Homo sapiens: one gene and its partners. The protein of the gene in region 7 purifies or fractionates together with the protein of the main gene of each other region. This does not show direct contact. Each region holds a gene or a part of one and is shown on either strand. Other genes may lie near its edges. The genes, in order: GJC1, TXK, PRKAR2B, MIA3, QSER1, DNAJC18 and ANO4.

Region 1 (3,500 bases), on a different chromosome or scaffold from region 7:
ATCTTGTCTCACTGCAACGGTGCTATCTTGTCTCACTGCAACCTCCGCCTCCCGAGTTCAAGTGATTCTCATGCCTCAGCCTCCCAAGTAGCTGGGATTACAGGAATGCCCCACCATGCCCAGCTAATTTTGTATTTTTTAGTAGAGACGGGGTTTCACCATGTTGGTCAGGCTGGTCTCCAACTCTTGACATTAGGTGATCCGCCTGCCTCTGCCTTCCAGAGTGCTGGGATTACAGGTGTGAGCCACCGCACTCGACCAGATTATTAGTTTTGTAAGACCGTTCCTTTGAGAATAGGTATGAGAAGATAGATTTTGGCTGATATCGTTAACCTGAAATTTAGACATAGAAAACAGTTCTGAGCTGTTAATATCAGCTGAATGGCAACAGTTGTTTTTCAACATACTGCTACAGCTGATGAGTTCAGTTTGTGTTGAAATAAGAACCTAGTAAAATGTATTTTTAAAAATATTTTTTAAGATTTAAATACAAATAATTTTAAATACAAAAAACTAGCTGGGCGTTTGAGCATTGCTATTTACTGCAACTCTAAAGAGTGAATGACCTGTTAGTCAGTACTGGCTGGCATACAGTTATACATTCTTGAATTTTACAAGTACTGTAGTTGGCTGAGAGCAGTCCTTGGCAATAAAGGTTTATCTTTCAGACCTGTGGAATATATTGCCCAAAGAGTTTTCCTAAAACAAGGATATGATGATCTCTTTGCAGATAGCATTTTACTTTTTTTTTTTTTTTTTAGACGGAGTCTCGCTCCATTGCCCAGGCTGGAGTGCAGTGGCGTGATCTCTGCTCACCACAAGCTCCACCTCCCGAGTTCATGCCATTCTCCTGCCTCAGCCTCCTGTGTAGCTGGGACTACAGGCGTCCACCACCATGCCCGGCTAATTTTTTGTATTTTTAGTAGAGACTGTTTCATCGTGTTAACCAGGATGGTCTCGATCTCCTGATCTCATGATCCGGCCACCTCGGCCTCCCAAAATGCTGGGGTTACAGTCGTGAGCCACCGTGCCCGGCCAGCATTTTACTTCTAAAGAAATGAAATGGGGCCAGGAGTGGTGGCTGATGCTTATAATCCCAGCACTTTGGGAGGCCAAGGCGGGTGGATCACCTGAGGTCAGGAGTTCAAGACCAGCCTAGCCAACATGGTGAAATCCCATTTCTACTAAAAGTACAAAAAATTACCTGGGCGTGGTGGCAGTCATCTGTAATCCCAGCTACTCGGGAGGCTGAGGCAGGCAAATGGCTTGAACCTGGGAGGTGGAGGTTGCAGTTAGCCGAGATCGCATCACTGCTCTCCAGCCTGGGCGACAGAGCGAGACTCTGTCTCAAAATAAAAAGAAAGAAATGAAGTATTCTGGTAAATGAATTCTTCTCCAGCTCTCAGTTGAAGCTTTGTTCTTTGAGGCTATAATGCTTGTAATACAAGCACAATTTGGACAAAAGCATTCTGGTGCCCATTAAGTCATTCAACTTTTTTTTTTTTTTTCTTTTGAGACTGAGTCTCACTCTTTCACCCAGGGTGGAGTGCAGTGGCACGATCTTGGCTCACTGCAACCTCCGTCTCCCAGGTTCAAGGAATTCTCTTGCCTCAGCCTTGCGAGAAGCTGGGATTATAGGTGTCCACCACCACGCCCAGCTAATTTTTGTATTTTTAGTAGAGAAAGGGTTTCACCATGTTGGCTAGGCTGGTCTCGAACTCCTGACCTCAGGTTGCCTCAGCCTCTCAAAGTGCTGGGATTACAGACGCGAACCACTGTGTCTGGCCCTTTTTATTTTTTTGAGACGGAGTTTTGCTCTTGTTGCCTAGGCTGGAGTGCAGTCGCGCAATCTCGGCTCACCGCAACCTCTGCCCCCTGGGCAAGATTCTCTTGCCTCAGCCTCCCAAGTAGCTGGGATTACAGGCATGCACCACCATGCCCAGCTAATTTTGTATTGGTAGAGACAGGGTTTCTCCATGTTGGTCAGGCTGGTCTCCTGACCTCAGGTGATCCACCTGCCTCGGTCTCCCAAAGTGCTGGGATTACAGGCATGAGCCACTGCGCCCAGCCTTTTTTTTTTTTTTTTTTTTTTTTTTTTTGTAATTGAGACAGAGTCTTGTTCTGTAGCCCAGGCTAAAGTGTAGTGGTGCTCTCAAGCGATCCTTCCACCACAGCATCCCTAGTAGCTGGGACCACAGGCCCACACCGCCACCACGCCCAGTTAATTTTAAAATTTTTTTTGGAAGAGACAGGGTCTTGTTTTGTTGCCCAGGCTGGTCTTGAACTCCTGGGCTCAAGCAGTCCTCTTGGCCTCTCAAATATGGGGATTACAGGCCAAGGCACCTGGATCCCAACGTTTTTTTTTTTTTTTTCTTCCCCAAAACATATAAGCACTTGATTAAAAAAAAAAAATAGTTGGACTCTTTCTTTCCCCCCCTTCTCACTATTGCACTTGACTAATTTTTTTTTTTTTTTTTTTAAGACAGTCTTGTTCTGTCATCCAGGCTGGAGTTGCAGTGGTGCGATCTCGGCTCGCTGCAACCTCTGCCTCCCAGGTTCAAGCAATTCTCCTGCCTCAGCCTCCCAAGTAATTGGGACTACTGGCGCATGCTGCCACGCCTGGCTAATTTGACTGATTTTATTTTATTTATTTTATTTTTGAGACAGAGCCTCACTGTGTCACCCAGTCTGGAGTGCAGTGGCACACATGTACTCCCAGCACTTTCGGAGGCTGAGGCTAGAGGATACCTTGAGCCCAGGAGTTTGAGACCACCCTGGGCAACATAGTGAGGGCCCTGTCTCTGCAAAAAGTAATTTGAAAATTAGCTGGATGTGGTGGCATACACCTGTGGTTTCAGCTACTCAGGAGGATGAGGCAGGAGGATTTTTTGAGCCCAGAAGTTGAAGGCTACAGTGAGTTGTGATCACACCATGCACTCCACCCTGGTCAACAGAGTGGGACAGTCTCTATTTGAAAAAAGAGGCCGGGTGCGGTGGCTCACACCTGTAATCCCAGCACTTTGGTAGGCCGAGGCAGGCAGGTCACAAGGTCAGGAGTTCGAGACCATCCTGGCCAACATGGTGAAACCCTATCTCTACTAAAATACAAAAAATTAGCCGGGCATGGTGGCGCGCGCCTGTAATCCCAACTACTCTGGAGGCTGAGGCAGGGGAATCGCTTGAACCCGGGAGGTGGAGGTTGCAGTGAGCTGAGATTGTGCCGCTGCACTCCAGCCTGGCAACAGAGCAAGACTCCATCTCAAAAAACGAAAAGAGGGCCAGGCACAGTGACTCACGCCTTGTAATCCCATCACTTTGGGAGGCCGAGGTGGGCAGGTCATGAGATCAGGAGATCGAGACCATCCTGGCTAACACCGTGAAACCCCGTCTCTACTAAAAATACAAAAAATTAGCCAGGTGTGGTGGCACACGCCAGTAGTCCCAGCTACTTAGGAGGCTGCGGCAGGAGAATCGCTTGAACCTGGGAGGCAGAGGTTGCA
Region 2 (3,500 bases), on a different chromosome or scaffold from region 7:
CCCTAGAGATATATTTGAATGACTTGACATGTGTGAGGTAAAGAAAGGGCTGGGAGAAGGGGCATCTAGCATACCAGGCTCCCAAGCTCAGTTCAGGGTATCTATGACACCTGAGCCATTATAGAAAGGAGGATTTCAGTCAGAAAGCAAAAGGCATGTTTTCATGAGGGACTTTGAAGGTCTTGGGGCACAGGTTGTGCTTTCAGTCTCAGTCAACAGAAAAATAAGAGTGTGGAAGTCCCTCTCACACATAGAAAAATGATTGCTGAATATTCTTACATTTTAAAAAGTTTTAAAAGCCTGTGATCTTTGCACAGTTTTTGAGTCAGCAACTCTAAAGGAAGATATTCACCATAAGTGACCCCATATCCCTGGTCATGGAGCCAAGGATTGGAGCATTTTTTCCTACTTCACTTAGGGGTGTGGTTTAGCTCTGATTCCAAGAGGAAGAAGAGATGGCACTGTCAGCATCTTTTAAAACCATGGGAAACAGAGCTACTCATAGTAGCCACATTCTCACAGGGGTCATTGACAGTAGGGTCAGCGGAAAGACACCCCTCTTCATGGCTTATAAACAGAGAGCATCAGTAAAATAAACAGAGCAGAAGACAGCACAAGTGCAAGTGAGGGTCCTTATTGAGACTCTGGGCATAAATTGTGGAGCTCTGTGAGGAGCCTGTTTCTGCGCATGAATCCTGAAATTTGTCTCTCAAAGATAGCATAATCACGTTTGACTCTAATGCCCTAAGCACATGGGGTAAAGCTGTAGGCAATATCAACTTTTGCACCTGACATAATGACTCACATCTGTAATCCCAGCACTTTGGGAGGCCAAGGTAGGAGGACTGCTTGAGGCCTGGGCAACAAAGTGAGACCCCATCTCTAGAAAAAATTTTAAAAAATTAGCTGGTCATGGTGGCACATCACTGTAGTCCCAGCTATTCAGGAGGCTGAGCTGGGCGGATTGCGTAAGCCCAGGAGGTCAAGGCTGCAGTGAGATGTGATTGTGCCACTGCACTGTAGTCTGGGAAACAGAGCAAGACTCTGTCTCAAAAATAAATCAATCTTTTCTTTTCTTTTTTTTTTTTTTTTTTTGAGACAGTCTGGCCCAGTCACCCAGGCTGGAGTGCAATGGTGGGATCTTGGCTCACTGCAACCTCTGCCTCCCAGGTTCAAACAATTCTCCTGCCTCAGCCTCCTGAGTAGCTGGGATTACAGGTGCCCGCCACCATGCCCAGCTAATTTTTTTGTATTTTTAGTAGAGACGGGGTTTCACCATGTTAGCCAGGCTGGTCTCGAACTCCCAGCCTCGTGATTCGCCCACCTCAGCCTCCCAAAGTGCTGGGATTACAAGCATGAGCCACCACACCCGGCCAAATCAACTTTTTCAAACAAATAAATCGACATAACCACACCATTGTATTAATCAATGTTCTGATTGCAATTTGAGACAAATGTTGTTTACATGGTCCTTCTGACAGCATCCTACTTATCACTTCCCTTCCTCCTTCTATGTCTCAGTTCCACTTACATATAACATCTCAATAAGCATTATATTACACACACACGTGTGTATTATTTCATACACAACATATACTTCTGAGCTACTTACATTGTTATTGCAAAGATGCTCCTAAAACGGCTGCTTATTACTACTCACTGAACATTTTTCTGAACATTTTTTTCTTACAGCTTGCTGAGCATTTTTCTATGTCTTTCAAGATTCCTTGTAAAGTAGTTAATATATGTAAAATATTTTCATACATTGGGGCTCTCTATAAATGTAATGCTTTTGGAATATGAATAACCACATCACTCTTAAAATATTCAATATTCTAGTGTTTGTGGATTGATAATCAAGTGCTTTATTTTTTCAGCCAGGAGGAAACTTCTCATCAAGCTGCAATTTCCAGCTGAAACTGTCAGCTGGAAAGAGACCAAAGCTCTCAAAATCAAAGGGAATTTCACTGAGAAGGGCAGGGGTGTGTTGAGTCAGTGCCCAGAGGTGGAAAAGAAGCCCCTCTGGCTTTATTTCTAAGCTTGGCATTTCAACAAATAGAAAAACTAAGTTCTGGAGAGATTTCTTCCTGAGTGGAAGTTCCTGACACACTTTCTGCCTCCATTCCTATTCTAGTTTAATCTGTAGCAGGAGTCCTGACTGCCAGAAGACAGATGAAACCCATTACTATTAGCGTTGGAAAAGCAAGACAAAGCAAAGTTGAGTGAAGTAAATGGAAACACCATCTTTCTTTTTCAACCTGGAAATTTAACAAGCCTGGTTCTACCCTTAGTTTCCACCATTAATTCTTTTATTTATTTGCTTATTTATTTATTTATTTATTTTTTGAGACAGAGTCTTGTTCTGTTGTCCAGGCTGGAGTGTAGTGGCGCAATCTCAGCTCACTGTAGCCTTTGCCTCCTGGGTTCGAGCAATTCTCCTATCTCCGCCTCCCAAGTAGCTGGAATTACAGGCATGCACCACCAGGCCTGGCTAATTTTTGTATTTTTAGTAGAGACAGGGTTTCACCATGTTGGCCAGGCTGGTCTCAAACTCCTGACCTCAAGTGATCTGGCCACCTCGGCCTCCCAAAGTGCTGGGGTTACAGGCGTGAGCCACCACACACAGCCTCCATCATTTAATTCTTTTTTTTTTTTTTTTTTTTTTTGAGATGGAGTCTCACTCTGTCGCCCAGGCTGGAGTGCAGTGGCGCCATCTCGGCTCACTGCAAGCTCCGCCTCCCAGGTTCAAGATTCTTCTCCTGCTTCAGCATCCCCAGTAGCTGGGATTACAGGCATGCACCACCACGCCCGGCTAATTTTTGTATTTTTAGTAGAGATGGGGTTTTACCACGTTGGCTGGGCTGGTCTCAAACTCCTGACCTCAGGTGATCCACCCGCCTCGGCCTCCCAAAGTGCTGAGATTACAGGCATGAGTCACTGCGCCCGGCCCATTAATTCTTAAAGCTAATAAAACATCTAATCACTGAGGCTTGAGTAACACCAAGAGTTTCTGCAAGAACCAATCTCAAACAGATAAGACTCAGAAAATGCACTGAATTCCTCAGATAAAAGGCCATTGTTCAAAACAAAATGGATTCATGACTTTGTAGTGAGTTTGAGATAGTACTTCAGACTCTCAGGATCATGACCAAGACACAGATGCCTTTTCCTGCCATGACAGAGTTCTGAAGTAATGTTTGTGATAATCAGGTCTGCTCTCAGATGCTGGGACTGCCAACCTTCATAGGAAAGTAACATATGCTTACCTCATGCCAGCAGCTGTACATGACTTCATATATGGACATTGGTGCCAGGTGAGGGCGATATAGCCTGAAGCCTTCAGAAATAGCTTCCACGACTTGCAAATTTGACTTATTTTCAAAAGGCATTTTTCCTTCTGTAAAAACTTCCCACATTAAAACTCCTGCAAACAAAAATGCAGGAAAACAAGGGGTTAGAGAGAAATGATTGCTTGGGAACTGAAAGAACAATTTCAAACT
Region 3 (3,500 bases), on a different chromosome or scaffold from region 7:
GCCATGGAGGTTTGCTATACCTATCAACCTGTCTGGTTTTAAGCCCCGCATGCATTAGGTATCTGTCCTAATACTCTCCCTACCTTCACTCCCCACCCCCTGACAGGCCCCGGTGTGTGATGTTCCCCTCCCTGTGTCCATGTGTTCTTATTGTTCAACTCCCACTTATGAGTGAGAACATTCGGTGTTTAGTTTTCTACTCCTGTGTTAGTCTGCTGAGAATGATGGCTTCCAGCTTCATCCATGTCCTGCAAAGGACATTATCTCATTCTTTTTTATGGCTGCATAGTACTCCATGGTATATATGTACCACGTTTTCTTTATCCAGTCTATCACTGATGGGCATTTGGGTTGGTTCCATGTCTTTGTTATTGTAAATAGTGCTGCAATAAACATATGTGTGCATGTGTCTTTATAGCAGAATGATTTATATTCCTTTGGGTATATACCCAGTAATGGGTTTTCTGGGTCAAATGGTATTTCTGCCATTAAAAAGTGGGCAAAGGATATGAACGGACACTTCTCAAAAGAATCAAAAGAAGATATTTATGCAGCCAAAAAAAAAATGAAAAAAAGATCATTACTGATCATTAGAGAAATGCAAATCAAAACCATAATGAGAAACCATCTCACGCCAGTCAGAATGGCAATTATTAAAAAGTCAAGCAACGATAGATGCTGGTGAGGTTGTGGAGAAATAGGAATGCTTTTGCACTGTTGGTGGGAATGTAGATTGGTTCAACCATTTTGGAGGACAGTGTAGCAATTCCTCAGGGATCTAGAACCCGTATTTATTTATTTTTTTGTATTTTTATTAGAGATGGGGTTTCACCATGTTGGCCAGGCTGGTCTCGAACTCCTGACCTTGAAGTGATCTACCTGCCTCAGCCTCCCAAAGTGCTGGGATTACAGGCGTGAGCCACTGTGCCTGGCCTTGAAATAATATATTCTCTACCACTGTATTTCTGCTAAAAAACCAAGAAAATGTGGCAACACTGGGGTAAGAATTTCACCCAAATTTCAGCCTAGATAACAGCATACATAGTTGGAAATGGCAACACTGCTGTGTATGCCAGCAGCGTCCCCTTAGTTGGCAGAAACATGTCTGCGGATCCTGTGCTCCTGAGGAAGTGCCGAGACATGCACCCTGCGTCATCCTAACATCGCAAGCATTGGTGTGGTGACCCAAGATAAGCCATCAACTTGCAAAGAGCAGAAAGCATCCAGATGGAGCCGGAAGCAGCAGATGTGGGCCTTGACATTTTCACTACAGTCAACTGAGGACCAAACTCTGACATGCTAGCCTACTGACATTCCATTTCAAGGCTTTGGAAGGACTTCTAAAAGAAAAGTGTTGCTCTACCCATATACCTGTTCTTTCTTGCTTTTGTTTCTTAATGAACTCTGCCTTGATCTCCAATGATGCAGTCTGAATTAAACAATACAATATGGAAGATAATAATACAGACACTGACTTCTCTAAGCCTCTCAAAGTGATTCTGGAGAAACTTAAAATATTTCAAAACTCCTTAATACAAATTCAAGAAGTTTAGCATCTGATTCTATCACAAAAATAAATGTTGAATTTAGATTTTTAGAATATAGGGTGTATATGTATATTTATAAATGCTTAAAAGACAACAAATATGTAAGAATATCCTTAATAAACCCTAAGTATAGCATATCTCCTTTCCCTTATTCTTGTATCAGGTTTTCATAAAAGCTTCATATTAAGTTTTCGAGTGTTCTGAATCATAATAGGTCTATTAACTGCTGAGTAATTTTTAACTATTTTTAAAGCACGCTCTAAGTGTATGTAAAACTGGTGAAAACTGAATATGGTCTGTGAATTATGCCAATGTCATTTTCCTAGTTTTGATATTGTTATTAACAGTGATGCAAAACGCATTAGGAGAAACTGGGTGAAGAGTACACGGGACCTCTCAAAACTATTTTTGCAACTTCCTGTGAATCTATAATTATTTCAAAATAAAACCTTAAAAAATCATTTAAAACATGCTCTTTGCTTTGTTATTTACTAGTTTATACAGTAGAACTTTAACCTTGCTTGACTCCATTTCTTCCCAATCCCTGACTGCTCTAACACACACATACACACACACACACTCAGCAATGGGAGAGGGGTGTTGATCGAAAGATTTACTTATGTATTTGTCTTCTAAAACAATTCTTTTTCTCAGTCTCAAAGACCTTGAATCTTGTTTCCCATATAAAGGAAAAGACTGCATTTCAGATAAAGAGCACAAAACAGTATAAGGCTGTGATACAAAAATTACAGAATCTATTAAAAATCCATTTTAATCATTTGCTTAGTGCTTCAAAAATATAACTAGGAAACAAGGTACTATCATCTGCATGCTTTACCTGTGAACTTCAACAGTCTTCACAAATTCTACTTTTGGTAGCCCTACTCCAACCCAGGTATCTAATATTATTGGTTCCAGCTGGGATCTTAGAAAAGTATTAGGGATTAAATAACATGTTGACCCACATGTAGTCTTGGAAGCCAAAACAGTATATGTTGCAGTGTGTTCCTTTCTTGGTGAATTTTATCAAGGAGCAGCCTCAGGAATTTTCATCATGAACTGATCATGCAAAACTCTATAGAATTTTCCAGTGTACTTTCTGGGTCCTCATTAATGTCATGGAACATTCACCTGTTTTTTCCTCTTATAAATGACTACAATGATGCAGAAAACCATTTGATGGTTTAATACACCTTCATTAGGAGTTAATTACATAAACAAAAATATTCAATAGAGTAATGACTATAAATGAAACCATTTTTAACAGGTCATTTGGTAGAAGTAATATTTATTTAACCCATCACTGCATACTAATTTTAGAAATATGAAAAGTTTATCAAGATCTACCACTACAGGAACCTTTTGGAATATAACCCTAAACTGAATTACATTTCAAAATATCATACCTGAGCAATGATTTGTTCTCCATCGTTGTATACTTTGGTGCCTATCACATCTACTACTTTCAGGCGTTCAGAAAACTACAAAGAAAGAAAAACAATATTAAATAGAAACAAATTAACTGGGTAAGCTTATCTAGTTCGGGAGTAAAAAACTGGTAGCCTATAGGCCAAATAAATCGAGCAGTGTGTAGGTTGTATATGTGTTTGTTGTATTAATTACCAGCCAGCATTTTAAAATAATTTTTCATAAAAATTCAATCTCCAGCTTCTCTTGAAAAATCAGCATCACATAGCCCATATTTCCACATGGCAACAATAAAACTATGGTGGGATAGCAGCTGTTTCTTTAATGAAATACATGTTCTCCAATCTGCCAAAGTCCCTTCCTGGCTTGGTTTTCTTCTCTGTGTTACCTGCCTAGCTCTGAAGGCACCAGATTTCCAATCCCTGACCTACTCTTATTTAAAGAAATATGCTGCTGGAAAAGATCAGCTGTCTACCACGCACTGTGTGATGTGGACAAAATTTTTACCAGATGTAAGCTGATAAT
Region 4 (3,500 bases), on a different chromosome or scaffold from region 7:
TCGGGAGACTGAGGCAGGAGAATGGCATGAACCTGGGAGGCGGAGCTTGCAGTAAGCTGAGACCACGCCACTGCACTCCAGCCTGGGCGGCAGAGTGAGACTCTGTCTCAAAAAAAAAAAAAAAAAAAAAAAAGGGAAAGAAAGTCTGGAGATACGTGATTAGCTAGGGGACTGGCATAAAAGATGACAAGGGCCTGAATTAACACAGTGACTTTAGGGGTGGACAGTAGAGTACAAACCACACATGGAGACTGAATGAATTTTGGGGAAGTTGAATAAAACACTGCCACATCAATGGGTTAACTGTATCACGAAGAAAAACAGTTGCCATTTACGTAATTCACATTACTATTGGAGGCAGAGAAGTGCTCTTTTTTAAAAAGTAATGAAATGAGGAATGTCTCTCTGAAGCAGGACAGGCATTTATTTAGAGCTGGCCTGAACAAAACCTGGAAAATCTAAACTGGCTGCCTGGTGAGCAAAGAATTAGAGAAAAAGTTAATGGTATGGTTTCAATATTTAATGGCATACAGCAGTAGCAGTCTAAGCATTTAAAAAAGTTAAATTTGCTTAGCAAGAGAGGCCTCCTCACACACTGCCATATACACCAAAGAGTAAAACATAAGAGCAAACACAAATAGCAACTGCCACAGATAACCTATTTTTAGAGAATTCAGATGTTTTTGTGGACAAAAAACTTGAACTATAAAAATATACCTCTCAAAAGGTACCTCGCTCGAAATTTGAGATATGTATTTCAGAGGATTATTATCTAAATATACACACCAAATAGTTCTACATTCAAAACTCCTAATATCTTTGCCACAATTATGTTTAGTTTGAATATTTTACTCTGTGAAGTCCAAAACTAAATGTACCTTCAATAAGTAAATTTTCCTTTTTTGAAGTTTTTATTCTACTAAAACACGTCATACAAATCCCTCAGACTGTTTAAAGGAAATTACATAATTGACCACAAAGAAAGGAAAGTGAAACAAGTGGCGGAGCCACAGACAAGGCATGGCCAGATCTTCAAAAGAGAAGCACTCCCACAGCAGCGACCGTCAGTACCAGTACACTGCTCCCCCTTAAGTGAGTTACAGGCAACAGTTTTTGACTACTGGTTAGAAAGGAAAGAAAAATGCAGCTTATGAGAAACAAAGCAGAAAGAAAGAAAGACAAATTTATACTAATTACAGATGCAAAAGAGTACAATCCTGAAAAACGATAACATTATCTATATTAGTACACATTTATTTACTGACATGACAATACAGTTAACAGTAAATGATGATAATCTTACTTTTGCAAAGCCATCTCCTTCTGCTGATAGAGCTCATTCAGAATCTCCACTTTCTGCCTCAAGGTTTTGCATTCATCTTCCAGTCCAGCTTTGGCAGCTTGTAGTGAGTTGCGGTCATCTTCCAATTTCTTTACCTGGTCTGTAAAGGATAAAACATTTGAGTTCCATATGTGTGCACAAGAACTTGAGAACTTGGTTGGGGGCTGGTGCTGAGAGAAATGAGAAGTATGAAAGCAGGAAGCCGCTCTTTATCTTTCTAATGCAATTTTGTATCTTTCCAATATATAGCAATTTCTTCTCAAGAAGCAACCTACCTTCCAGGTTACATTTAGTGGACACGGAGGCTCTTAGCTTAAGCTGTAAAAGCTTTAGATCCTCTTCAACTACCGATATTGCAGTCTGTGTCTAAAAATTGCAGAAGAGACAAGTATTCATAAAAGTGAGGCATAGTAAAAGTATTCACAGGCAATTATGGGACTCTAAAAACGATTATACCCGAGAGACATCCATCATCTGCTTAATTTGATTTTTCATCTTCTCATTCCGGTCACCTAAAAAACAAAAGGCTTTCTTTCATTGCTTTTTCTTCCCTTGCTTTTTAAATCTATATTTTCTTGATTTACCCAAAACTAAACAATTGTCATGTTCAAACATTTAAAGAACAAACAAAAACAGAAAAGGATTAGACTGACTTTTAAGAGAACTGCAAACTTAAGACTGAAAAAGTGAATTCCCATTTGTACAATAAACATGTTATACATGCCATTATTGAGCAAGAAGAAACATGTGAGATAAAGCTCTTTCTTCCATCTGGGCTTAGTGTCTTATTCAGAAAGATTCCCTCCTATTCTCCTCCAGAATCTACTACCAGGTGTGGTTTAAAACACCCACTACACAAGCAATATCCAACTTGAGAGAGGGCATCTAGAAACATTTTCCTCATCAGTAAACACTGCAACACTATAGCCTCCACTCTCATGGCCTTAGTTTATGGATCCAACCACCTCAGTACTCTCAAAACCAGTTGTGGTTTTCTTTCATGGCCTTAGTCAGTTTATGCCTCCAACCACCTCAGTACTCTTAAAACCAGTTGTGGGCCTTAAAACCACACAGCTACTGAGATGACAAGTTTTAAAATGTTATCTCCATGAAATTGAAAAACAAGTTTCTACTACTGTATGTGTCCAATACTTAGAGGTGTAAGACATGACCAGTGCAGCTCCCGTGCACCCTTCTAGTCTCAATGTGAAAACAAAGTCAGTGTTCACTGCATGCTTACTGCTACACCTCACCCTAGCAATCCACCTCTGCCCAATGCAAACAGACACACATTCAAATCCAATGTATTTACACCTCGAAAGCTTAAGAGGAAATGCAGCCAGCTGAAAAGTAGCACTGGTGCACTTAAAGACAGGAAGGCAAAAGGGGTCCATCCTCCTTGAGGCTGATCTTACCTCCCACTTCTCCATTTGCTAATTCATCTGAATCATTTCCACCTTTATTTTGACCCTCAGATTCAGATTCACACTCTAACAGATTCAACTGTGTAATGCAGTTAGTCAAAGCCTAGAAAAGAAGTAAAAGGGCATTAAGAGTCTTTCCATTTAATTCAACAGATTTGATAATTCACAAGAATTAAGCTTGTATTCATGAACGCACTTACATTAATATTATCATCCTTGTGAGTAAGAGCTACTTCCAAATCTTTCTGAGACTTCTCAAATGATTTGATTTGCTCACTGAGCTCAGCATGTAATTTACTCCAGTCTTCGATTTCCTGCTGCAACTGCAAAGTTAAAACACATGATTCCCACAGGTTAGGGCTTTTGCACTGGAGACATTAGGACCACATGAATGAGACAGGTAAATAAGGAACCATGCCTCTCCTTGGCCTATCACTATGGGCTAAGACCTTGGTTAAGTGGGAGGAGACAGTGGCCCCAACCCTCAGAGCTGTAGTGAGAACATCAGAGCTATCAAGGAAATTGATCTTGTTTATTGCATCCTTCAGAAAATTGTAGCCAATTCAAATAATTCACTTCCAGAAGGAACAGAAGGGCTCATCCTACTATCTCCCAAGTCCACACTCCTGATCATGTAACCTTCCCTTGGCTAGTGAAGCAGTAACTACTCAAAGGAGGGTTATAAAATATCTAACTCTTGGGTCTAAAAAGCCAATCTACTACCCACTCGAGGC
Region 5 (3,500 bases), on a different chromosome or scaffold from region 7:
CAGATCACAAGGGTAAACCCATTTTTACTTTTGCTATATGTGGCTAAAATGCTGTCCTGAAATGTTAACAGTCTCTTTCTGACAGTACTTTGTTAATTTCTGATCAACTTTTCATGATAAACATGCATCTATTATGATTGGGAAGTTGTTCATAGGAAGTGAAAGCTTGAAATGCAAGAGATTTTTAAAGTGAATATATTTTGGTAAAAGAAACTGCAGTTCACTGTTTTTTTATATTTATTTATCATGTTAGATGTAGGCAATTTAGCTTTTTTTTTTCCATTTTAATGTTATGTACATTTTGGTTTGTCCATTGGTATTTTGTGTTGGTACTTTGGGATAAATTAATCACTAGAGATATGTACATTTTTACTGATTTCTTCATTTTCCTATGACCTTATCAAACTATATATAAATTATATAACAATTACAGATATGAATTGCTGATATCATTGTAACTTCATTTTTACTCTATGAAAACTAGCTAATCCAGGCGTGGTGGCTTGCACCTATAATCCCATCACTTTGGTAGACCGAGATAGGAGGATCACTTGAGCCCAGGAGTTCAAGATAGCCTGAGCAACATTGCAAGACCCCATCTCTACAAAAATTTAAAAATTAGCCAGGTTTGGGAGTATGCGCCTGTAGTCTCAGCTACTTGGGACACTGCGGCTGCAGTGAGCTATGATCGCAAGACTGCACTCTAGCCTGGGCAACAGAGTAAGACCCTGTCTCTTAAAAAAAAAAGAAAAGAAAGAAAGAAGCTAGCTATTTTGAAATGTAATTTTCAAAATTTACATGCAGAACTAACTGGTCAGGTTTTTCAGTCTTAAGACATTTTGATGAGTTGAGGGTTATGTAAGTCATTACTATGAAAACATAAAGTAATTGTGCCATAATTACATAAAAATCTTTGTGCCTTTTCTTCATAGGCATGCATTCCTCAGCAGCAACTGAGCTGTTTGCTACTGGACCTTTGCCAAGCACTGGAACACTTCCACCATCTCTCTCTGCTTATCAGCATCCCACCACCTTCAGCAATAGAAACTTTGCTACCACTTCACCTTTGGTGCTTCAGGATTCAACTTTTAACACTACATCAAATGGAATTTTAAGTCATCATGACCCTTTGCTACAAATCAAGACTTCCCAGGGAACTGTTCCAACTGCTTTGGCATTTGAGCGCCTGGGCAGTTCTGTATTAAGTAACAGCATACCACCTCAGTCTTCAACATACCGCTCAGCTCAAGAGTCTGCACCCCATCTTTTACAACCTCAATTTAGTTTGTTGCCTTCAGCACTTGGGGGATCCCAGCAGACTCCTCAAGCCTACAGTTCAACTCTCTTTACTAGTTCTACTGCTTCCATTGAAAGAGCTCTTCTTCGAGAATGTAGTGTTATTAAACACCATCAGCGGCCTTCAGGTACCCAGTCAATTCAGGCACAACTGACTGGTTCACAGCACTCCTTACATAGTTATCTATCAAATTCAAGTGTAGTTAATTTTCAGGAAACAACCAGGCAGTCATCTTTATCCTGTAGCCCAATTGGAGATTCCACTCAGGTGAGCAACGGAGGATTACAACAGAAGACCTCCCAGGTCTCAGTGGAACTTGCTCAGTCTTACTCATCTGCGATTCCATCATCAGGGTATCCTCCTTCTACTACAAAAATAAAAAGCTGTTCTACAGAACAACCACTGACATCAACCAAGACCCCTAAACCTCAAAGTATAATTCCTCCTGTGCAAACACTAAGCTATTCCAAACCTTTACATAATCAGAGTTCTGTAATATCGGGCCAAGCACAAATTTATTCTACAGCGCAGCTACCAAGCCTTTTATCAGTTAGTCAGTCCCAAAATTACGGTTTAGTACAGCCACATAATGTGCCATCTATTGTTCATTCACAGGTTTATAGGTCCAGCAAGGTTGAGAAATTGCCACCCTTGTATAAAACATTGACTTTTTCTGGGTCATCTCAGACTGTAACTCCTGAAAATCAGACGCTTAATTATTCATCTAATCAGCAAGAGGTATTGTCTTCAGTTACAAATGAGAATTACCCTGCTCAAACAAGAGATCTGTCTTCAGTAAGTCAGTCTCAAAGTTACTCATCTGGTCACTCTCAGGGTTTATCACCAGTTAGCCAGACACAGGTTAGCTATTCATCTCAATCACAAGTTTTGTCAGTTGTTAGTCTTTCAGAAAGCTATGCTTCAGGGGAGTCCCTAACATTAACAGCCCCTTCTCTTTCTTATTCTTCTGCCTCTCGGGCTCAGAATTTGCCAGACTCTAGCCCGACCCAGAATTATATTTCTATGCATTCTTCCCAAAATGTTCAGACTCAAGAGTCATCATCTCCCCAGTCCCAGAAGTTTTTGCCTGCTGTCCAGTCATCATCTTTTGCATCCTCTACTCATTGTCAGACATTACAAAATAACATAACTTCCCCTGACCCAAAGTCTTATGCTGAAAGAAAGCTTGACTCAGATGTGTATCCATCTTCAAAGCAAGAAGATGGTTTTCCAATGCAAGAGTTACAGGTGTTGCAGCCACAAGCATCTCTTGAGTCATCAACCCAAAGGCTATCTGATGGAGAAATTAATGCTCAAGAATCAACTTATAAGGTGTCAAAGGCAGATGACAGATATTCTCAGAGTGTAATCAGAAGTAATTCCCGTCTTGAAGATCAAGTTATTGGGGTTGCTCTGCAAGCATCAAAAAAAGAAGAAAGTGTTGTTGGTTCAGTGACACAACTTAACCAACAAATTGGCCAAGTCAATAATGCAGCTACCCTTGATCTTAAGAACTCAACTAATTTAATACAGACTCCACAAATAAGGTTGAATACTAAAGACTTAAAGCAGCAACATCCTCTCATACTTAAGGTGCATGAGTCCAAGGTCCAGGAACAGCACGATCAAATAATTAATGCTTCATCTCAGATTCAAATTCCAAATCATGCTTTAGGGCATGGCCATCAGGCATCTCTTCCTAATACACAGGTCCTTTTAGATTCTGCCTGTGATTTACAAATTCTTCAGCAGTCAATACTGCAGGCAGGTTTAGGTCAAGTAAAGGCATCTTTACAAGCACAGCGTGTTCAAAGCCCTCAACAAATAGTACATCCCTTCCTTCAGATGGAAGGTCATGTTATTCAAAGCAATGGTGATCATTCTCAGCAGCAACTCCATCCTCAAAATTCTGAAGTTATGAAAATGGACCTCTCTGAGTCTTCAAAACCATTACAACAACATCTAACAACAAAGGGCCATTTTAGTGAAACAAATCAACATGATTCAAAGAATCAGTTTGTTTCTCTTGGATCGATGTGTTTCCCAGAGGCAGTGCTTCTTAGTGATGAAAGAAATATTTTATCAAATGTAGATGATATCTTAGCAGCTACAGCAGCAGCTTGTGGAGTTACACCTACTGATTTTTCCAAGTCAACTTCAAATGAAACCATGCAGGCTGTTGAAGATGGTGATTCTAAATCTC
Region 6 (2,912 bases), on a different chromosome or scaffold from region 7:
AGCCTACACTCCATGCTTCCTTCATATTGGAAGAAAAGTTTCTGGTAGAGAGTCGGCCGGGTGCACTGGCTCAAGCCTGTAATCCCAGCACTTTGGGAGGCTGTGGCAGGTGGATCACCTGAGGTCAGGAGTTCAAGACCAGCCTGGCCAACACAGTGAAACCCCATCTCTACTAATAATACAAAAATTAGCCAGGTGTGGTGGCACATGCCTGTAGTCCCAGCTACTCGGGAGGCTGAGGCATGAGAATCGCTGCAACTTGCAAGGTGGAGGTTACAGTGAGCTGAAATCACGCCACTGCACTCCACTCCATCTCAAAAAAAAAAAGAGTCTACATTAAACAGATTCCAAAGTAAAGTTTCTTCATCCCAATGCATGGCCATGATTTACACAGACGTGCCTAGCATGGCTCATCAACATCTGAACGGTTGTTCCCTACCATGCCTCTGCAGGCATTCCACAGAGTCAGGAGATGGGTTCACAGGTAAAGATTGGGGGCTTTAGTGGCTTGTAGGGGACAACTGCTCAGTTGCAGGGAGAGGGAGCATTTCTAGAAATAGCCAGATTTTGCTGCCCAACTAGATCTGTCCTCCTGGTTTTAGGGGGCCCTTCTTGATCCCCTCTGAGTGACTGAGGGAGGTTACATTGTAAAATATGTCCATGAGCCAAACAGGCTTATGGAAAGTTCTTCTACACACAAAAAAATCAAAGCTCTCCTCTCCCCATCCCCAACCACTGCTAGAAAATTGGCCATAATGAAACTGACTTGACAGGTTAAAAGACCCTGTCCTAGATGCCCAGGAATCAGGTAGTCACACATTTTATGGACTTCATGGCAGCGATAAGTAATCTGTGATGATACTAAATAGAAGCAATAATAACTAACTCCATTAAATGTCACGCTGATTGTCTGTTTTTATAGCACCGATGGTACTGTTTTATTTATTGCCAATAGACCACAACATTCACATCTGTTTTTCCTCAAGGGAACCGTATTTGCTTTTGGTTGAAGGATTTATCTATTTGATACTATCCAGAATATTGTGAAGCTATAATTTCCTGGGTTATATTTTAGATGGGTTGTCTGCATGGTGGTAAAATAAGCTTTTTCCTCTCGCCTACGTCCTTTGGAAGATCTCCTGATCATACATAACTAGGTAGGGCTTATTCTTGCTGCCGGAGCTTGGCACCCAGCTCTAGACTGTTTCTTTGAGCATTACTGCAGATTGGAGACGTGTGTGAGAGGAGCAGCGCTCAGAAATAGGGCTTGAGGCTCAAGCAGAAACTGAAGCTCTCATTCAAATGAAGATGCTCTCTCTACCGCACGATCGGCAGTGAGAAAAGGAGGATGAAAATCCTTCTCATCACAAAGAGCTTGAAGGAACCCACGTCCCCAGATTAGCAACCCTAGAGTTCATCTGCTCAGGCCGGGAAATGTGTAAGCTTCCTTGATCAGCTCCAGGCCTCACAGCACGGGAGCAGTGACCAGTAAGGAAACGTCACTGCTGTGCTTTCTGTTGGAAATTGTTCGAAAATACAGTGAACTGGCCAGGCCCAGTAGCTCATGCCTGTAATCCCAGCACTTTGAAAGGCTGAGGCAGGCAGATCATTTGAGGTCAGGAGTTCCAGACCAGCCTGGCCAACATGGTGAAACCCTGTCTGTACTAAAAATACAAAAATTAGGCGGGCATGGTAGCACGTGTCTGTAATCCCAGCTCCTCAGGAGGCTGAGGCAGAAGAATCTCTTGAGCCTGGGAGGCAGAGGTTGCAGTAAGCTGAGATCACATCATTGCACTCCAGCCTGGGTGACAGAGCAAGACTCTGTCTCAAAAAAAAAAAAAGAAAGAAAAAAGAAAATACAGTGAACTCCAGATGCCACTGGAACATGGGTTCCAGCAGCCTGGCCAAGCTATGTGTCATTCTTTTTCCTCATGATACCCAGGATGGGCTTTGTGAGGAGGCACTGTGCCGTTCCAGTGGCTTTCTGTTACAGCTGGCCACACCATACAAGCAAGTACATCATCTGCATGCACTGCTCCTCACAGGAGCTTGCACTTCATTCATATTTATTCTGCCCTCATTTAAGGTATAAGCTTAGTGTCCTAATATATTTATTTTTGGAAAGGGCCAAGTTACAAAACATCTTTTTTTTGAGGCTGCACTGTTGATATGTCATGCAGTGGCCACCAAGAAAGTATATACTCGTGTTAGATACTGATTACATCATTTACATCACGCTCAGTATTTGGAATTAAAGATGTGAATGTTCTGTGACCAGAGTAGGGATGACACAAATGGAATCAGCTCCTGGTGGACTAAGAATCTTGAAAAAATCTGGCCACCTCATCCACTACATCTGGATTGAGTGTACTGCAACAAAGAAAAACATTAAACAATTTTATATTAAAAGAATGGCTACTTTTCCTTGGTTCTTTTACCTTTGCCCATGGCATCCTTGGCCACTGCACATCGCCTGACTCCCTTGGAGCCACTTCCGACTAAAGAAGCTTTTGACGCCTGCTCCAGTCTTCCCTCACCCGTCAGTGGGATTATTTGCATTTAGAATAGTAGATAGCATTGTTGGCATCAGTTCCACATTTTCTATCAGATAACAGCAGCTGCAGTACCTCACAGCCAATATACAGATCAAAACTACACTTAGCATCAGAAATTCAGGTGTTATCCCAGTTCCTTGCTGGCTTTGGTCCTAGTGGCCCATATTTAGGAAAGTTTTGGTTTAAAAATATAGTAAATGATATTTACATGATCCTAACTGGTCATGATAGCTTTCATTTGAAAAAGAAAGTGAGATGAGATTCAATTCAGCAATGATTGAGAACTTACTCTGAGCCAGGTGGGCTGGGTTTTTGGAATGGGGGTCAGGGAACAGGTGAGGCCCAGCACCAAGACTC
Region 7 (3,500 bases):
TTTTAGTTCTTGGGCTTCATAGTGGATTTATGAGAGCTTGTTGTATTATTAAAGTATTACTTTAATGGAGTCACATGGATTAAAGTTCTCTGAATAGTGCCTGGTCCCCAACAGGTATTCGGCAAACATTTGTGGCATTTTATGCCGACTCAAAAGTGATAGCTGGAGGATACATTAGGAAGGACTCTTCTAGTGGCAAGTGGCAGAAATCCAGGGTAAACTGACTTAAACAACAAAAAATTGTTCAGTTAGCTGGGAGAGTCAAGGGGTGATATGAGCTTCAGTAATGGCCGGATCCCAGGCCTCAAGCAGTGTCAGCAGGATGCTGCCTCTCTGCTGTCTCTGCTTTGTTTTCTTGACTTCCTTCTCAAGCAGGCTCTCTCTCTCCATACAAGGCCACCAGGAGTCCCAGGCTTTTGCCTTCTGTGGGCTTAGTGATCATTCACTAAGTGATAGTTCTGGCAGACATCTTGATGATGTCACTGATCAGGTCTGGCTCATCTTTTGAGCTGAGATCAGGCAGGTGGAGGGGGAAGTCCTAGTCAACCCACACAGATGATTCCCCAGAGAAGAGATATTATTTTATCAGAAGAAAAATGCTGGACAAGCAAAACAACAGATATCTAGTATAGAGAAACTTCAAATTTCCCTCCTATTGAATGAGGACTATATAATGAGAATGGAAGAGATTTGAGAATCAGAAAAATCATAGTTTGAATGCAACATTTTTCTGTGTCTTTATAGATACCGGGACTACCGTGACCCGCCTCATTCACTGGTGCCCTATGGCTACACACTGCAGTTTTGGCATGTCCTAGCTGCTCGATTAGCTTTTATCATTGTCTTTGAGGTAAGTTTCCTCAGCCAAATTCTTTATTTCCTTTGACATAATGAAGTCAGTAGGAGTAATGAATAAAAATAAGTGATGGGGATTTTGAATGTGATTATCTATATTTCCAGAAGTAGTAGTGTCATATTATGTAACCTCTTTTTGATCTTTTTTCTTAATTGAAGTATTTGATTTTTCCAAGACATATTTGAAAGTCCATAGTTGGTTTTTAATGGACAAATCTGAACTCGTTGCTCCTAAATGTAATTTTCTGGGGCCATAGTTCTTAAACTTTAGCAAAAATGCAGTTTTTCCATCCTCACTCCCAGATATTCTGACATACCATGTCTGTGGCTTGTTTTTCATGAGCTCGTTGTAATGATTCTGACTATAGGCATTCTGGGACCATAATTTGGAAACATTTGGAAAACATCAGCCCAGTAAGATTCATTCTTTTTTTCTTTTTCTTTTTCAACTTTTATTTTAGATACAGTGGGTACATGTGCAAGTTTGTTACAAAGTTACATTGCATGATGTTGAGGTTTGGGGTGCGACTGAACCCACCACCCAGGTAGCGAGCATAGTATTCAATAGGTAGTTATTCAGCCCTTGTCCCCTCCCCCTCTCCCCTCTATAGTAGTCCCCAGTGTCTGTTGTTCTCATCTTTATGTCCATGTGTACCCAGTGTTTAGCTTCCACTCTAAGTACGTACAATAAGAACTTGCAGTGTTTAGTTTTCAGTTTCTACATTATTTCACTTAAGATAATGGCCTCCAGCTACATCCATGTTGCTGCAAAGGACATGGTTTCATTCTTTTTTATGGCCACATAGTATTCCATGGTGTATACATACCACATTTTCTCTATCTGGTCCACCATTGATGGGCACCCAGGTTGATTCCATGTCTTTGCTATTGTGAATAGTCCTGTGATTGACATATGAGTACATGTGTCTTTTTGGTAGAATGCTTTATTTTCTTTTGAGTATATACCCAGAAATGGGATTGCTGGGTTGAATGGTAGTTAAGCCCTTTGTTCTTTGAGAAATCTCCAGACTACACAGTAGTTGGACTAATTTACCTTTCCACCAACAGTGTGCAGGTGTCCCCTTTTCTCTGAAGCCTCGCCAGCATCTGTTAATTTGTTTACTTTTTTTTTTTTTTTTTTTTTTTTTTTAAGACTGATTCTCTCTCTGTCGCCCAGGCTGGAGTGCAATGGCACAATCTCGGCTCACTGCAACCTCTGCCTCCCAGGTTCAAGTAATTCTCTGCCTCAGCCTCCTGAGTAGGTGGGATTACAGGCACCCGCTACCACACCTGGCTAATTTTTGTATTTTTAGTGGAGACGGGGTTTCACTGTCTTGGCCAGGCTGGTCTTAACCTGACCTCATGATCCATCCGCCTTGGCCTCCCAAAGTGCTGGGATTACAGGCGTGAGCCACTGCACTTGGCCTGACTTTCTAATAAAAGCCGTACTGACTGGTGTGAGATGGTGTCTCATTGTGGTTTTGATTTGCATTTCTCTAATTTCCTTAGAGATTCTGAGCATTTTTTCATATTATTGTTGTCTGCTTCTATATCTTCTTTTGAGAAGTATCTGTTTGTGTCCTTTGACCACTTTTTAATGGGGTTATTTGTTTTTTACATGTTGATTTGTTTAAGTTCCTTACAGATTCTGGGTATTAGACCTTTATTGGGTGCATAGTTTGCAAATATTTTCTCCCATTCTGTACGGTGTCTGTTTACTTCTTTGACAGTTTCTCTTGCTGTGCAGAAGCTCTTTAATTAGATTTGACTTAGCAATTTTTGTTTTTGTTGCAATTGCTTTTCAGGACTTCACCATAAATTCTTTGCCCAGGCCAGTATTGAGAAGGGTATTTCCTAGGTTTTCTTCTAGCATTTTTATAGTTGAGGTCTTACATGTAAGTCTTTAATTCATCTTGAGTTAAATTTTGTTTATGATGATAGGTAGAAGTCCAGTTTCATTCTTCTGCATATGGATAGCCAGTTATCTCAGCACCATTTATTGAACAAGGAATCCTTCCCCCACTGCTTGTTTTTGTCAAGTTGGAGATTCACTCTTTCTAAATGTCTCCAATTATTGCCATCATCATTACCACACATATTGAAATATACTGATTCATATAGTTAATTTATGATTTTCAAATAGTTATCAGGATTTCCCAACATGATCATAAGCATTTTCCAATAGGACTGGGTATTACAAGTGGTATTTCTGGTTGTGTATCATCACGGAATTATTTATATTCAAGCATCCAAGTAAGTATTTATTAGCTAAGACTCAAAATGGAATTATAAAGTAAAATCTGTCTAGCAATTGTCTATATTATATGTCAATAAAAATATATTATCTATTTTCTTTCAGGGTTTAAGAAAATTGCTGTAAAAATAGTTTGCATTTCTATGACTCTAGTCATAAGTGGAAATTTCATCTCTTGTCACATATATTAAAGCCAGATTAATAAAAGCCAAGGTTGCCTCTCGGCTTGGATCTAAAGTTTCCTAGACCTCTTCAAGACTATTCTATCACTGCTTTTTCCTTCAGTCCAGGGAACCAAAAGAAGAAAATATTAAGCTGCTCTTCCCTGGAAATTATCTTACCAATGGCACACTCTCTCTTTAAAGAAGATATTTTTAACCCATCACTGTCT

What was found.
Region 1: the proteins of ANO4 (region 7) and GJC1 fractionate together in Homo sapiens (co-fractionation; one large-scale study listed by BioGRID). This does not show direct contact.
Region 2: the proteins of ANO4 (region 7) and TXK fractionate together in Homo sapiens (co-fractionation; one large-scale study listed by BioGRID). This does not show direct contact.
Region 3: the proteins of ANO4 (region 7) and PRKAR2B fractionate together in Homo sapiens (co-fractionation; one large-scale study listed by BioGRID). This does not show direct contact.
Region 4: the proteins of ANO4 (region 7) and MIA3 purify together in Homo sapiens (affinity purification with mass spectrometry; one large-scale study listed by BioGRID and IntAct). This does not show direct contact.
Region 5: the proteins of ANO4 (region 7) and QSER1 fractionate together in Homo sapiens (co-fractionation; one large-scale study listed by BioGRID). This does not show direct contact.
Region 6: the proteins of ANO4 (region 7) and DNAJC18 purify together in Homo sapiens (affinity purification with mass spectrometry; one large-scale study listed by BioGRID and IntAct). This does not show direct contact.

What each region holds. Positions count from the first base shown.
Region 1 is NC_000017.11:44,823,788-44,827,287, reverse strand, and holds part of GJC1 (gap junction gamma-1 protein), read left to right. Parts: intron 1-3,500. UniProt on the Homo sapiens protein: One gap junction consists of a cluster of closely packed pairs of transmembrane channels, the connexons, through which materials of low MW diffuse from one cell to a neighboring cell.
Region 2 is NC_000004.12:48,068,251-48,071,750, forward strand, and holds part of TXK (tyrosine-protein kinase TXK), read right to left. Parts: intron 3,425-3,500; coding exon 3,267-3,424; intron 1-3,266. UniProt on the Homo sapiens protein: Non-receptor tyrosine kinase that plays a redundant role with ITK in regulation of the adaptive immune response. Regulates the development, function and differentiation of conventional T-cells and nonconventional NKT-cells.
Region 3 is NC_000007.14:107,152,705-107,156,204, reverse strand, and holds part of PRKAR2B (cAMP-dependent protein kinase type II-beta regulatory subunit), read right to left. Parts: intron 3,029-3,500; coding exon 2,954-3,028; intron 1-2,953. UniProt on the Homo sapiens protein: Regulatory subunit of the cAMP-dependent protein kinases involved in cAMP signaling in cells. Type II regulatory chains mediate membrane association by binding to anchoring proteins, including the MAP2 kinase.
Region 4 is NC_000001.11:222,652,597-222,656,096, reverse strand, and holds part of MIA3 (transport and Golgi organization protein 1 homolog isoform 1 precursor), read right to left. Parts: intron 3,090-3,500; coding exon 2,967-3,089; intron 2,870-2,966; coding exon 2,758-2,869; intron 1,855-2,757; coding exon 1,799-1,854; intron 1,709-1,798; coding exon 1,618-1,708; intron 1,443-1,617; coding exon 1,304-1,442; intron 1-1,303.
Region 5 is NC_000011.10:32,930,811-32,934,310, forward strand, and holds part of QSER1 (glutamine and serine-rich protein 1), read left to right. Parts: intron 1-932; coding exon 933-3,500. UniProt on the Homo sapiens protein: Plays an essential role in the protection and maintenance of transcriptional and developmental programs.
Region 6 is NC_000005.10:139,409,703-139,412,614, reverse strand, and holds the end of DNAJC18 (dnaJ homolog subfamily C member 18), read left to right. Parts: 3' UTR 1-2,412; downstream 2,413-2,912.
Region 7 is NC_000012.12:101,119,776-101,123,275, forward strand, and holds part of ANO4 (anoctamin-4), read left to right. Parts: intron 1-744; coding exon 745-850; intron 851-3,500. UniProt on the Homo sapiens protein: Has calcium-dependent phospholipid scramblase activity; scrambles phosphatidylserine, phosphatidylcholine and galactosylceramide. Does not exhibit calcium-activated chloride channel (CaCC) activity.